Linked DNA regions of Homo sapiens: region 1 is linked to region 2. A link means that fine-mapping ties the variant in region 2 to the expression of a gene that starts in the linked region. Tissue or cell type: sigmoid colon. Region 2 holds a variant in brackets; the other region holds the start of a gene. All regions are shown on one strand. Distances are between the middles of the regions.

Region 1 (8,000 bases), 77 kb after region 2:
ACATGAGGAGCTTCCTGAAAGCAGAGAAAAAGGATAACATGAGTTACACAGTTCTCATCGACGTGGGGGGGAAAAAGAGTATGCAGTGATAGCCGCAGAGTACCGCCCTTTCCTGACACAAACTCTAACTCAATTACATTTTATTAATGCCTTCTAGTACAAGGGCACTGCAGACTAGGAAATGCCAAGTAACATGGGATAAGGTCTTCAATGTATTTCTGCAGAATTTAAAATTATTTTATTCAAAAGAAGAATTACTTATACCTAAGAGGCCAACATCACACTACTAGTAAGTTAACAGCTTGCAGAAGCTGTTTTTTTTTCCGGTAACCTAGTTTAATATGGAAAGTGAACTTAGAAGACGTAAGAACAGAAAGTGAAACTTCATGGAGGTTTCTCAAACATTTGAAGCATGATTTCAGCAGCTAACAGACTGCAGCCAATTTAAGCTTTAAAAAACTTAAGTGAGACTACCATGCAAATAAAATGTTGCATACTTCTTTTCCCACTTACCTTACTTGAAGCTCCAAATGTTGTGTACTTTAAAATAAGTACTAACAAAGGAGACAACAAAAGAAACCTTCTATTAAGAAAATTACAGAATTTGCTTTTTATTTCACTTAGAAAACTAGCCTATTTCCACAACCAAAAAAGCAAGACTAAATTTTCTCAAAATATATAGGAGTTACTACCAAAATAGGTGAGTGTCATGGCCGCTAGAAGATAACGGAGAATACTGCTGCAGAGCACACCAACAAGAGAACATGTGCTTCCATGGTTCTTCTTCAAAAGGCTGTGTGTGTGGTTTTGTCTTCAAATTTAAAATCATCACTGGCCTAATGGCTAAGCCCAGGAAACCTCAATAGGGCATATTTTGTCTTTAAGGAGAAAATTATTGCTTCTAAACTACTGTGAATCCTCTTAAGCTTTTATACAACTCAGTTCTTCTTGAGGTCTATTTTGTTAGTTTCATCAGACTGTAACGGCTTGCAATCATTAGTGAATGACAAATGGGTGTGTCCAGACAATACTCAAGTTGCAAAACCAAAATTAAAGCAACTCTCTGAGCACCCACCAAAAAGAGAGCTAATGTGTCAAAACCAAAAATATAGGATGCTTCACCATAGGTATTACTGTAATTTTCTACAGACTTATCCTTAGGCTATCCATTTCTCAACATTAACTAGCCAGAAACTTCAAATAACAATCTCTTTCTTCTACACTTCTCAGCTAAACATCTGGAAGTTTAGATTCACTACCTCCCAGCTCTTCAGCTCCTTTGCACTCTGGCTTCTACCCTTACACTCCACTGAATGTGAAGTCCCTAACAATCTTTACATTACCAATCCAATAGGTTCCTGACCTGACTCTGCTAAAGCATATGAAAATGCTGCCCATCCTTTCCTTACCTACAACACACCATTTTTTGGACACCACTTCTACCCAATCACCTTCATAATTACCCCTGCCTTTGTTACTCATATAAATGCTAAAGTTTTCGAAGGCTTGTCCTGAGAATTCTCACCTCTTCATTCAGTACTCTTTCTGGGCGGCCTACTTCAAACCACTGCTTCAACTACTGCCTAGATTGAAGCTGCCCAGACTGAGAATGTATTGTAAAACTTAATGCAGGCAGGGCGCAGTGGCTCACACCTGTAATTCCAGCACTCTGGGAGGCCGAGGCGTGAGGGATCACGAGGTCAAGAGATCAAGACCATCCTGGCCAACATGGTGAAACCCCGTATCTACTAAAAATATAAAAATTAGCTGGGCATGGTGGTATGCACCTGTAGTCGCAGCTACTGGGGAGGTTGAGTGAAATGATGCACTGTTCCACCTACTCAATAACTGACAGCCTAGCCTAGAACTCCAGATATATTCAATATCCAACTGCATACAGTGTATCTCTACTCACATATCTGACAGGCACCTCAAAGTAAACATGACCAGAACCCAACGAAGTCCTTCCCTTAAATCTGTTATTTGTTCTATATTCCCTTGTTGATGACATTACCATACATTCAATTTTCAAACCAGTAACCTAGGAATTATCCTATACGCTCCTTCTCCCTCAGCCGCAATCTCTGAGCTCCAGAGCCTACCCCTTAATTACATCTCTACTTTCTTCTCAGTGCAACCGCCACTGCCTTAGTTCAGTACATTTTCATCATTTGCCTGGATTACTGAAGAAGCCTAAATGATCTATTTCTTCTTTGATCGCCATCAATTCCTCCTCCAAAATGCTGCCAGAGGCCAAAGCCCCAAACTGGACTTCGAAAGCACAAATGACTCCTCCTCCAATGTTGGGATAAAATTCAAATTGCTGAGCTCAACACACACAAGGCCCGCGATGATCCAGCTTCCACATCATCTCTTTCCTCCACACTTACCTCCCTTGACTTGCTCTTCCTAAAACCATTCATGGTGACTGGTATTCCCTGCCTTTATGGAAGCTCTTCCACTGGCCTTGGAAACCCACCCTCCTACCTCTGCCCGGTACTTAACTGTGAATACACATCAGACTTACCTCAGGAACTTAAAAAAAAAAGTAGAAAAGATCCTATGGATAAAATTGTTTCCCTTTTAAAGAACTCCACTAAGATTCGAAGAGAAAGCTGGATTTGAGAACAACCAGTGTGCAAGCTCTTCCTGAGTGTCATCACGTCTGGGGGGGGGGCCTGTCCGACCCGTCCTCTCTTCCAGTCTATCTCTGATGACCTTCTTCTCTGTCCCTTTAGGACTCTGCACATGTTTCCATCATTGCACTTACCTTGGTGCTCTGAACTCCTGCTAAAAAAAAAAATTATTACCTGGACAAATGGCCTACAGAAAAGTGATCGTCTCAGCTGGGCTTAGTTGTGAACAAACACGGATTTGCATTCATATATGCCCAGACTCTGGCCCCAAAAGAACATTTCTGAAATTAAAAAACAAAAAACGAAATTGGTAAGTGGCATTTATACTCTATATCCCATCTGAGCCTGGTATCGATCCTATTACAGACAGATACTGCTGGCTGATGAGGAAGCCCAGATAGGTTAGACAACTTGGCTGTGGACTTCCAGGAAACAGCAGAACTGCAATTCTGACTCCCAGTTCCACAAGGGGCTGTCCCCACTCACGGGGACAGCTAGGCACCGAGCCAAAAATCCCCCAAGTTATTAGCCCGCGCAGGTAACATCAATCCTAGGATCCTCAGCTGTGTCACTTATCAAATACCACACTCGGCCTTCTCCTTGTGGAGCTCTTTTCCCTCAAGGCAGTCACCCCCGTTTCACTTGGGTCGTGCAAATTGCTGGGCACATCCTTAGATCCCCAGAAGTTGGGGAGGACGGACAAAGTCCTGTGGCCAGCAGCAAAAGCTCCAGCCCCTCCAAGTGGGAGAAACAGACTCTCCTCCAAACGAAGGGACCGGCCGGGCGCGGCGGCTCGGAGGATCCCTGGAGCAGCTGAGCTCAGCCTGGGAAACACAGCCAGGCCCTGTCTCTGCAACACATTTTGTTTTTAATTAGCCGGGCGTGGTGACGCGCGCCTATGGTCCCAGTTACTCGGGGGGATGAGGCGGAAGGATCGCTGGAGCCCAGGAAGACGAGGTTGCTGCGAGCCGTGACTGTTCCACTGCACTTCAGCCTGGGTGACAGAGCGAGACCCCGTCTCAAAAAAAAAAAAAAAAGAAAAAAGAAAAAAAAACAAAGGGAGGGACTCCAGGCGAGAGGCAGACGAGCGTGTGGAGGGAACCGACACTTTCCACCCCGAGACCTCCCGCTCAGCCCCAAGGAAACTACGCAGTATCCACACCAAAAACAGCTCACACGAGACCGCAGTGTAGACAACGGAAGGACAGGGGGTCGCAGCGGCCGGGTCCAGCGCGCAGGAAGGCAACAGGCGGCCGCCAGCCGTCGAGGGGTGCTCCCGCCCCCGCACCGAGGGAAGCGGCCGAGCCCGCGCCGACTCTTCCCCCATCCGCCCACCGGGACCTAGGCGCCGCGATGGTTCCCCGAAGCGGCCCTGCAAGCACAAGCCGCGCCTGCGCTCACGCCCGCCCGACCTACGGCCTCCAGCCCGCCGCTACCCTCACCGCTCTCTGGCTGGCGTCGGCCTCTAGCCCACCTCCATACCGGGCCCCGCTCTAGGCCACCAGCGGAAGTGCGGGCCCGCAGCCGCAGCTACCAACCAGCTGTTGCCGCGAGGTAGGCCCCGCCCCCGCGCTGAGTCGGCCGGCCGCAGGCCCCGCCCCGGCCGCTGCTTTCTGGTTTTGGTGCCCCCCAGGGGGCGGGGCATGGGAAGAGCGGCCGCGGTGCACCGCCCACGCCGGGCGCTGGCGTCACGTCCGGGCAGCTGGGGCCCGACCAATCCCGAGTCCCCGTCAGGGTGGACGGGGAGAGTTTGCCGCGGAACCTTGACCTCGGCCCCGCCCGGGGCTTCCTGCGGGTGGGGCGGCTCCGGGATGAGCTCTGCTGCGGGTGGGGTCAGCCCTTACCCGCTGGCCATTTCCGTTCCCTCTTTTTTCTTCTTTTTTCCACGCCTCAGGTGTCTCAGCGGATGTACTACGGTGACGAAGTAATTTTTCTCTTTAGATTTCCTTTAAAGACCTGAAATGTAAATTACATAAACGTGTAATTTCGGAGGAATATGTGTATATCCTTTATATTACAAGAAAGGGAGACCTTAGGTCTTGCGAACAATGCGCGCGATGCGCAACACAGCAGAGTAAATCCCTCGCTGGTGCGGTGGCTCCCGCTTCTAATCCCACCACTTTGGGAGGCCCAGGCGGGAGGCTCGCTTGAGCCCGGAGTTCAGAGACCAGCCTGTGCAACATAGCGAGACACCCGTATGTACAAAAAAAAATTAAAACTCAGCCACCGAGGCCGGGCGCGGTGGCTCACGCCTGTAATCCCAGCACTTTGGGAGGCCGAGGCGGGTGGATCACCTGAGGTCAGGAGTTCGAGACCAGCCTGACCAACATGGTGAAACTCCGTCTCTACTAAAAATAAAAAGATTACCTGGGCGTGGTGGCGGGTGCCTGTAATCCCAGCTACTCAGGAGGCTGAGGCATGAGAATGGCTTGAACCCGGGAGGCAGAGGTTGCAGTGAGCCGAGATCGCACCACTGCACTCCAGCCTGGGCAAAGGAGCGAGACTCTCTCTCCGGAAAAAAAAAAAAAAAAAAAAAAATTAGCACCTGTGGGCCCAGCTTGTTGGGAGGCTGAGGCAGGGGGTGGATATCCATTGAGACCGGGAGATCGAGACTGCAGTGAGCCGTGACTGTGCCACTACACTCCAGGCTGGGGAACAAAGCAAGACCCTGTCTCAGAAAAGTCTATAAATAAATAAAAATGAGTAAAATCCACTGGAAAGCCTATCCCCCCCCTTTTTTGTTTTTGAGATGGAGTCGCGCTCTGTCACCCAAGCTGAAGTGCAGTGGCGCAGTCTCGGCTCACTGCAACCTCCGCCTCCTGGGTTCAAATGATTCTCCTGCATCAGCCTCCCGAGTAGCTGGGAGTACAGGCGTGTGCCACACGCCCGGCTAATGTTCATGTTTTTAGTAGAGATGGGGTTTCACCATGTTGGCCAGGATGGTCTCAAACTCCAACCTCAAGTGATCCGCCCCGCCTCGACCTCCCAAAGTGCTGGGATTACAAGCGTGATCCACCGCACCCGGCCCCTACCCCCTTTTAGTAACGCCTACTACTGACCACGATGATGCAGCGTCACCGTCTTACAGTTAATAGAGGAGACAGGGAAATTAAACAATTAGTAGTGGTGACTCAGGCGATAAAAAAAGAGGCTGAGATGGGCCAGCTTGGGAAAAGTGGGTCAGATACAGCCTTACCGAGGAGAACCCTGGCCCGAGGATGAGGAGCAAGCCCAGGGGAACACTGCGGGAAAGGCCCAAGGCGAAGGAAGATTCTAGCAAGGGGGCGTGGCTTGTTGGAAGGGCGTGGTGGCCGTTATGCAAATTTAACCGTCTAAGGAGCAGCACGCGTTGACCGTTATTTTCCTCTTTTCTACTTCTTCATCCTGTCAAATATTTTGAACATATTTTGTTTTATCATATAACACTAATATACCAACACAGCCTTTATACCACCACAGTCATAAAATATAATTTTTTTTTTTTTTTGAGACGAGTCTCGCTCTGTCGCCCAGGCTGGAGTGCAGGGGCGCCATCTCGGCTCACTGCAAGCTCCGCCTCCCGGGTTCACGCCATTCTCCTGTCTCAGCCTCCCGAGTAGCTGGGACTACAGCCACGTGCCACCACGCCTGGCTAATTTTTTGTATTTTTAGTAGAGACAGGGTTTCACCGTGTTAGCCAGGATGGTCTCGATCTCCTGACCTCGTGATCCGCCCGCCTCTGCCTCCCAAAGTGCTGGGATTACAGGCTTGAGCCACCGCACCCGGCCATAAAATATAATTTTTATCATTTTTTTTAATGGAGAAAAGTGCCATGAAGGTAACTTGTGCCCAGAGCCCACAAAAGTCATAATTTCCTCCTGTCCCTGAAGCCCTCTGTAGGCCTTATCATCTTCCCACATTTTTTGTCTGTGAACAACATATAAATTTTACATGCTTTTTAACTCTGTATATGGAATTATGGAGGATGTATTTTTCTGCAAATTGCTTTTTACACTCAATGTTATGTCCTGAGACTCATTGATTCAAGGTGCATTCAGGAATTGTTGAGCCCAAAACTTACACAACCTATAGAATGTTAAACAGAAGCACTGCAATAGACTTTGTAAATATAAAATTAGAAATGAAAATTAATACTTATTTGGAATGAATAAATAAGTACAAATTACAAACTTCTAAAGCTGATAAAACCATAAACATGGCCAGGCGCAATGGCTCAGGCCTGTAATCCCAGCACTTTGGGAAGCTGAGGTGGGCAGATCACCTGAGGTCAGGAGTTCAAGACCAGCCTAGCCAACATGGTGAAACCCGGTCTCTACTAAAAATACAAAAATTAGCCAGGCTTAGTGGTGCATGCCCGTAGTTCCAGCTACTTGGGAGGCTGAGACAGGAGAATGGCTTGAACCCGAGAGGCGAGGCGACAGAGTGAGACCTCATCTCCAAAAATAAATAAATAAATAAATAAATAAATAAATAAATAAATAAATAAATAAATAAAAAGACTGGGAAGTATGAGGCCTCCAGTATCGTTCTTTTTCAAAATTGTTTTAGCTACTTAAGGTCCCTTGCTATTCCATGTGAATATTTAGAATTGGCTTGTCCCGTTTCTGCAAATAAATAAGTACAAGCAGTTGGAATTTTTATAGGGATTGAATTGTATTTTTAGATACATCTGGGGAATCAATTGACACCTTAACAATATTAAGTATAGCAGGTTCTCTAATAAGATCATTTTGTTCAATGTGGTTTTGTTATAACATTGATGAGAAAAAAAAAATCCATTCCTGCTCAAGGCTTTTTTTTGAGACGGAATCTCCCTCTGTAGCCCAGGCTCTGGAGTGCAGTGATGCGATCTTGGCTCACTGCAAGCTCCGCCTCCCAGGTTTCGGTTCAAGCAATTCTCCTGCCTCAGCCTCCTGAGTAGCTGGGATTATAGGCACGCACCACCACGCCCAGCTAATTTTTGTATTTTTAGTAGACACGGAGTTTCAGCATGTTGCCCAGGCTGGTCTTGAACTCCTGACCTCGTGATCCGCCTGCCTCAGCCTCCCAAAGTGCTGGGATTACAGGTGTGAGCCACCGTGCCTGGCCCCGAGGCCACTTTGTGTGTGGAGTTTGCCCCTTCTCCCCATGTCTGTGTGGGTTTCCTCCAGGTACTCCAATTTCCTTCCCGATTCCAAAGATGTGCCAGTTAGGTTGATTGGCATGTCTACATTGTCCTAGCCTGAGTGAGCATGGGTGTGTGTGTGAGTGTATACCCTGCAAAGGGATGGCATCTTGTCCAGAGTTGGCACCCACCTGGCACCAGGAAAGATTCTGGCCATCCGCGATCCTGAACTGGAATGAGTGGGTAGATTATTACCTTGT
Region 2 (8,261 bases):
GTATATCATATTGATTTTCATATGTTGAAGCAATCTTGCATTCCTGGGATAAATCCCACTTGGTCTTGATGTATAAATCCTTGTAATAACCTGCTGAATTCAGTTTGTCACTATTTTGTTGAGGATTTTTGTATCTAGTCATAAAGGATTTGGATCTGTAGTTTTCTTGTGATACTTTCCCTTGGCTTTGGTATCAGTGTAATACTGGCTTCAAAAAATGAATCTGAGTGTTCTATTTATTGGAAGCATGTGAGAATGACTTGTGTTCATTCTTCTTTTAATATTTGATAGAATTCACCAGCTTAGCTTGGTTCTGGGCTTTTCATTATTGGGAAATGTTTCATTATTTGTTATAAAGGTCTGATTTTTTCTTTTTTTTTTTTTTTTGAGATGGAGTCTCGCTCTGTCACCCAGGCTGGAGTGATGCAGTGGGGCAATCTCAGCTCACTGCAGCCTCCGCCTCCTGGGTTCAAGCGATTTACCTACCTCAGCCTTCCGAGTAGCAGGGACTACGGGAGCGCGCCACCACGCCTGGCTAATTTTTGTATTTTTTTTCAGTAGAGATGGGGTTTCACCATGTTGCCCAGGCTGGTCTCAACCTCCTGACCTCAGGTGATCTGCCCGCCTCAGCCTCCCAAAGTGCTGGGATTACAGGTGTGAGCCACCACACCCAGCCTACAGGTCTGATTTTCTATTGTTTTCTAGATTCGATTTTGGTAGTCTGTGTGCTTCTAAGTTAAGATGATTTTAAGGTTATGGATCTCCAATATTTAATCTTTAATTTTACTGCTGAGGTAAGAAGGAAACAAAAACATGATTTTCATTCTATACATAAAGGCAATACAAGGGTTAAATCATTTATTTAAAGTGAAATGTTACTTTTAGTCTTGCTAGAACAAGAATTCAGATGAACAAGTCATGGAACTAAAAGGTAAAGACCTGGCAAGTTTCTTAGTCAATTCCACTGCCAAGGAGAATGTTGACATTCCAACTGCCAGGAAGTAACCTGTCTACCCAGGAGCCACACAGCACAAGTCTATGAAAGCCAGCAGCATCCCAGCTTCCTCGTGCCGTATCACCAATTTGCACAGACCACTCCTTAAGAGTTTCCCTTTTCTTCTTTCCTTCTATATCCTCTCATTCTAATTCAACAAGAAAATTGGAAATATTTATAAAAATGCCTCACCCTTTTCTATCGAACTCTTTGTCCAAATCCTTCTGAATCATCGTCTTCTGGGCCTTGTAATGAGTTATTATGCCAATGTTTCGAAAACTAACATCCTTTCTTTTGTCTTTAATAAGCTTAATTATTTCCATCACCAGTTTTATTTCTTGAACATTTATATATGAGCTAAACAAGATGGAAAAAGAAAACACAGTGTTATCAAAACTAATAGCAGGCTAATTGCTAACTTAAGTTCCACTGAGTTTGTTTCCCATTATAGTAAAGGGCAGGCAGATAGGCTTCATCTTTTATTCAGCTAGCAGTGACTCCAAGAGGCTGTTACAATGACCATTAATATGGTATATATGAATAAATGTGAAAATACTATGGTAAATATGAATACATGTGAAATGCCCAGTGAAAAATGAAGTTGTAGAGAGAAAAGAGTTTGAAATCAACTGAAGTTTAGGCACCACTTTCTTCATCTGTTGAAACAGGGAGAGCAGTATTAAGAACAGCAGTATTAATAAGAACAAAGATGTGAATAAGAGATAGCTAACATGAATTAAGGATTAACTATCTTCCGAACACTGAGAAAATGCTTTACATGTATGATCTTCCTTGTCCCTCACCACTGGCTGCATACAACACACACCACACAACCGAGCAGCTGCCATCCACACAGACTCAATGTGAAGGATGTGTCCCACTTGACCCCAGTTGAACAACATGGGGCCCTGGAGCAGGTTCATGTCCTCTTTGTAGTCCTCAGCAGCCTCATATCCTGCACTCTCAACCCCTCCTGAAAACACATGCTCCCTCATGACCATACCGGACCCAAAATGCACCAAGACCAGGGGATGCACTGCCCCATCCCTTGATTCCTGAGGCTACCTTACCCGCCTTGCTTTACGAGCCTTAAATACCCATTCTCCTAACTTTGAGACTTACTAAATGGACAACCCAATCAGCTAGCGATCTCTTCCATCCCTGAAATCCTCATGATGCTCTGCGGCTTAACTCGCAATCCTCTGCTCTCCTCCAAGAGGCCTCATTAAAACCTTTAGGCTGCAGTCCCTCCAGCACTACAATCCCATGGCCAACAACTCCTCTGTATGTGTAACCTCTTCAATGAGTGTTCCCTACTTCCACCTCTGTATCTTATCTAACGCCTGATTCTCGCCTGAGGACGCCACCTGCTCTGCAGCCATCCCATGATGTAGAAGTGGGATTTGTGTTTCCTCCTACTTCATGACAGAGTGGCACTTGTATCCGTGCCAACAAATGCTGCCCCTAGACCATTCCTCCCCTACTCTCTCACAAGAATCCCCAGCTCCTCTGACATTGCTGCTTCTAGCAACACCACTCCTCTTTGCTGTCATATACAGACCACCTGAACACATGCCCTTATTCACAACCCAATACCATCCAACCTCTGTCACTACTTCCTTCCTCCCTTTCACATTTTCATTCAACTGAATTTATACTTAGCCTTCACAGTACTTAACCCAACTGGAATAACTGCTTACCCAGGTGATGACCTGCTGAAGGCCTGTCTTCCCATGAGACCACCATCTTGCAATGGGCACGTCTGTTTCCCTCACTGCTGTGAGCTCAACAAGTATCTACTCAAGCACTTGCTTATGACATTAGGTAATATTATCCCCATTATACAGAAAAAAGAAGCATCAACTTAAGTGAACATGACTGTGCCCTGACACTAGGCAGAGAGATGTGTATAGGAAATGTATTTAACAGAAATATGAATGCAAATCATGTAACAATTCTGGGACTATCAGAGGACTGAGGCAAGAGGAAAACATACTCATTATCCCGTCTTTCTGAACCATCTCCAACATCAAACACAAGGTATGGCTGAAATGGCCAATCTGATGAACATCGAATGGCTTCTGTCTGTCTGTAAAAAAAAAAAAGCAGTCAACATTCAGAATAAAGTCAAGATTTAAGAAAATATCTTGGTATTACTACAATTTTTTCTGTGTGGTGATGTGGGCTGGGGCAAGTAAGGGGATAGCAGGAATATTCTTTTCTAGACGTGTATTAGTGAAAGGTACAAAACAAATTCTATTTCTTTCCTGGTGCTGGGAGAGGTGTCTATATCATTAAAATATAACAAGTATGATTGGAAAGACACTCATAATAGAGTAAGCCACAGAATACTATGTTAAGTATGGTCCCACATTTTTCCTTCAAAAATTTAAAAAGTAAAAAAAGATATGCATAGTAAAAGGACTGAAACTTGGCCAGGTGCGGTGACTCTCGCCTGTAATCCCAGCACTTTGGGAGACCAAGGCGGGTGGATTGCTTGAGCTCAGGAGTTCGAAAGCAGCCTGGGCAACATAGCGAAACCCCGTTTCTACAAAAAGAAAAATACAAAAATTAGCCAGGCATGGTGGTGACTGAGTGTAGTCCCAGCTACTCAGGAGGCTGAGGCAGGTGGATTGATTGAGCCTGGGAGGTCGAAGCTGCAGTGAGCCAGGACTGTGTGCCACTGCACTCATCCTGTGTGAGTGACAGAATGAGACCCTGTCTTCAAAAAAAAAAAAAAAAAAAAAAAGGACTGCTGAAAGTGGATATACCAAAATGTTACCAGTGATTATTTCTGGGTAGTATAAATATAGGTGACTTTTTCCCCTTTTCTTTTTTATGTGCTTTGCTGTATTCAACATGATGGCTATTATAACAGGACAAAATTATTAACCCTTCATGATTTATGCTTTTTATGACAAGACCTAAGACGACAGTAAAATGTCTATTCTTCATAAGTAGCTAAACTACAACAAAATAAGGTCACAAACAATAAGGGGAACTCACCTATTTGTTTTTAAGTTTCTGTTATAAACATAATTAGAAGGGAAGAGGCATATGTCTGGATGCATCCTGTACTGAACAGTGAGCTGTAGAATGGGCAGCCTGCTGATCATGTTGTGTTCTACATTCTCTTCCAGCAGTCTGCAGAAGCGAGCCATCATTGACTGGTCGTAGCCATACTCCTGTGCTTTCTGTGAGGGGCAAAATAAAGCAACAGTT[T/C]CCAAGAATTCATTTATATCTTTCCCACTATTATAAACACAATTACTGAGATCTAATACGTATATGGCAACGTTCAGGTAGCATAAGATTACCAACCACAGCTTCAGAGAAAAAAGGTGTTTCTGACTCTGAGCCTCAAAATGCCATGAATCTTTTTTTTTTTTTTTTTTTTTTTTTTTTTTTTTTGGAGACACAGTCTCGCTCTGTCACCCAGGCTGGAGTGCAGTGGCGTGATCTCAGCTCACTGCATCCTTCACCTCCCAGGTTCAAGCGATTCTCATGTCTCTGGCCTCCTGAGTAGCTGGGATAACAGGAATGAGCCACCACACCTGGCCAAAATGCCATGAATCTTGAATATATGTGGAGGTCTTTTCTACTCATATACTGCTAATGAAAGAGATATGATCTTGTGAAAGACAACTGATGCTATTTTGATGCTACAAGACGCCACCCAAAAAAACCAGTAATAAAGGAAATGTAACACAGATTTTAACAATTATTTCTGGGGGTACACCCTCACAGACAGACATATTGAATGCCACTGTAAACAAGCCTTTTGAAGACAAAATTCTTCATTCATCCATCTAATATGTACTAAGCATCTATAATTTGAAGTGCTAAGACCACTAGAGTGAATAAGATGAAGTCTCACAGGACTTAATTTCCAGTGAAGGAAACAGACTCGACTTATGTGTTGACCATCCCTAATCCAAAAATCCAAAATACTCCAATGAGCATATCCTTCGAGCGTGAACTTTAAGCATAAAGTCAGCACTTGGGAAGTTTCAGATGGTGAAGCATTTCAAATTTTTGAATTAGGAACGCCGAAGCTGTGCTAAATGGATTTCACAAACCAAATAATGGGTTATATTCTGCAATCTGAAAAACAGTGACCTAAGTGACAAGTGGGATAAACTGTCTTGATGTTACCACAGTTGTGCCTTGGGATCTACTTTCCGATGGCAGCAACACAGAAAGTTTCAAAAAGGGGAGGGGGAGGGATAGCATTAGGAGATACACCTAATGTAAATGACGAGTTAATGGGTGCAGCACACCAACATGGCACATGTATACATATGTAACAAACCTGCATGTTGTGAACATGTACCCTAGAACTTAAAGTATAATTAAAAAAGAAAAGTTTCAAAAAGTACTTTATCTTAAATAACCCTGAAGTAAAAATGTGCTGAAAACTTCACTAAGATGATGGAATCTTCATGAGTGATGTGAAAGATACTGGCACTGAAGACGTGCAAAGCCTGAATAAACTTGTTTCACAAACTATGGGAGTGGAAGAAAGGCATTACTTCTTAACCTATTTATATGTGTGATTTTAAACAGGTTTGTGAAAGCATAAAATAATTATTAATAGATACATGCCAATTTTCCCTAAATCCTCAAAAGTTTATCTGCGTTAGCTCACAAAACCTAATTTTTAATCTTTTCTTTGGGGAAACAGAAAAGGAAGTTATGTAAGGTAACGCATCTACCTCCAGACAAAACCTTAGTCCATTCTACAAATGACATAGATTTATTAATATATATTCTGACATGGGAGGATGTCCCTGATTTACTGATTGAAAAAAAAACCAATTCTGCACAGAATGATTTTGCCACCTTTAAACAAAACCAAACCCACGTACATATACACATAAACATATACATGTATACAAACCATATACCACTTTTTAGTAACTGACTCACTGTTAACCCCTAGAATACAAACACCATAAGGGCAGGGATTTTGTCTGTTTTCTTCACTGTCATAACCCCAGCCCCTAAACAGTGCCTGAATTATGGTGGCACTCAATATATACATACTGAAAAAGACGAATAAACACACAAATGCCTAGCAATATCTGTTAAAAATACTCACTTTCACTGTAATTACCACTAGAAACAGGTGGTCAAAAAAGGCACCTTATGGAAATGAACTTTGTAATTATTTTCTCAAAATAGCCTGTTTTATTTGTACAACAATTTAAACAGCACAAATGGATTTTTTTTTTCTAATTTTTGTTGTTTTTATCAATCATTGAAGTAGGCAGTAAAGTTGAGGCCCATTAACAATCTCTCTTTTCACTATATGCCAAGGCCCTTCAATGAAATCCTGCATCATTTAAAGAAATGGGATACAGAATTTGCTCTTCATTATTCTCCGTGAACAAAGTTACCTGCAGCAGTTCTTCCCTACACACACGGGTTTTCACTGGGTGACGGGTGTGCTTCTGGGCCACACTCTAACATGATCATGTACCTGCGCTCAAATGTCATACAAAGAACTGCACTATCATTCTGAATAATTCCGAAATCAAAAACCACTAACGATAACCACCTGCATTCATTCCAAGCTTCAACAAAAATGCTTTGAAAATGATCTGTTCTCTAGGATTATTTATGAAGCCACTGCTCAATTATCTGTATAAATAATCTATGTTATTAGTAAAAAATACACATTTCATTAAATTTCAAAACCTCTTCAGATTACTTCAAAACATCTACTGGATCCTGATTCTAATGTGCATTTCCAGGAGAATCTTTCATGAGATTAAAAAAAACCAACAGAGAAGAGTAGACTACAGTCTGGTTCTTCTCTTCCCAAAGTCAGAGCTTGTAATTGAGTCTTTTTTTCCCCTGTACCTTCACTTTCAGATGATGTGAAGGGCACAGACATGTTCTTGTATTAACACTAGAATACCAAATTCTAAAAATGGAAATGTACTCCAAAATTAATTTAACTTCATGTTTTCCTCAATTTGTACATATTTAAACAAAAATGAGGAGGGTAGGATTCTTCTCTTTATTTCTGAAGTTTTTCTTTTATTATTGTTTTGGTGTTTGTATGATTAAAATAAATCAGATTCAGCTCTTAAGAGACTTAAAAAAGGCAGACATGCACACTGCCTTTCCCAAAGCTTGGTTTCCATGGCACGTCATCCATCTAGGCTTCCAAGTCCCTGCCACACTGCTTCTGCCACACATACACAGAAGAACAACTATGACCAAATGGACATTTTTAGGCATTTTTTAAAATTTATTAAGTGCTTCTCTTTTCTTAGTTACTGCTTACTTTTCCCTCCAAATTAAGAGGCCAATCCAAGAAAGATGTCTCTCCCTCCTGAAAACAAAAATTTTAAAAAGCCCCTTCCATTTTAAAGCAATCTGAACATAAAAAACTTACCATAGAGATGACTGTCGGAGGGAGCTGCTTAGGATCTCCTACTAGGATGAGCTTATTGCAGCGATGGATGAGTGGAGTAAGAGTCTCAATTTCACAAGACTGTCCAGCCTTGGTAAGATACAGAAGAGAGAGGCAGTCTTAACAATCTTTGCTATTTATCCATATAGTTTATCTGATTAAAGTTCTAACCATTCAGAAAAGTATCACACTTCTCCTGCACCAAATATCAAAAATACAAATTTTCCCTGAAAACAAAAAAACAAAACAAAACCAACAAAATAAACCCTCCAGGCTGTGTGCAGTGGCTAACACACGTAATGCCAGCACTTTGGGAGGCCGAGGTGGGTGGATCACCTGAGGTCCGGAGTTCAAGACCAGCCTGGCCAACATGGCGCAACCAAAAAAATTAGCTGGGCGTGGTGGCAAGTGCCTGTAATCCCAGCTACTTGGGAGGCTGAGGCAGGAGAACTGCTTGAACCCAGGAGGCAGAGGTTGCAGTGAGCCGAGATCACATCACTGCACTCCGGTCTGGGTGAGTGCAGACTCCGTCTCTAAAAAAAAAAAAAAAAAAAGCAAGACTCCGTCTCAAAAAAAACAATAAATAAATAAAAAGTAAACTCTCCAAACATGTCTAAAAAAAAAATCAAACTTGTATTTTTGAAGTCAGCCACCAACGGGGCCACTACCACTTGGGAACCAGCCGTAAGTTCAGAAGGCCATGCACATCCTAGATGCGTGCTTTTTGTTCCTGCTGGGCATGAGCCTGAAAAATTTTTCTCCTTTAAAGTCCTTTTAAAACTTTATTTTAAATTTTTTATTTATTTTTTAACTTATTTTTTTTTTTTTTGAGAGAGAGAGTCTCAC

What was found. PIP is the estimated chance that this variant, and not a neighbour inherited with it, causes the effect.
Region 1: SETX starts here. The variant in region 2 is fine-mapped to the expression of SETX in sigmoid colon (GTEx, PIP 0.99).

Annotation. Positions count from the first base shown.
Region 1 is chr9:132,350,839-132,358,838 of GRCh38, forward strand. SETX (senataxin) reads right to left here and starts at 4,148. Exons shown (of 26, transcript NM_015046.7): 1 at 4,079-4,148; 2 at 2,811-2,917. RefSeq lists enhancers at 355-404, 3,412-3,913, 3,733-4,932, 3,914-4,413 and silencers at 3,798-4,007, 4,058-4,447.
Region 2 is chr9:132,274,070-132,282,330 of GRCh38, forward strand. SETX (senataxin) reads right to left here. Exons shown (of 26, transcript NM_015046.7): 20 at 7,398-7,505; 21 at 4,001-4,188; 22 at 2,991-3,083; 23 at 1,187-1,351. Among named protein-coding and RNA genes, the nearest start is that of SETX, 77 kb to the right of the region's middle. The variant T/C (reference allele first, on the strand shown) is at 4,217.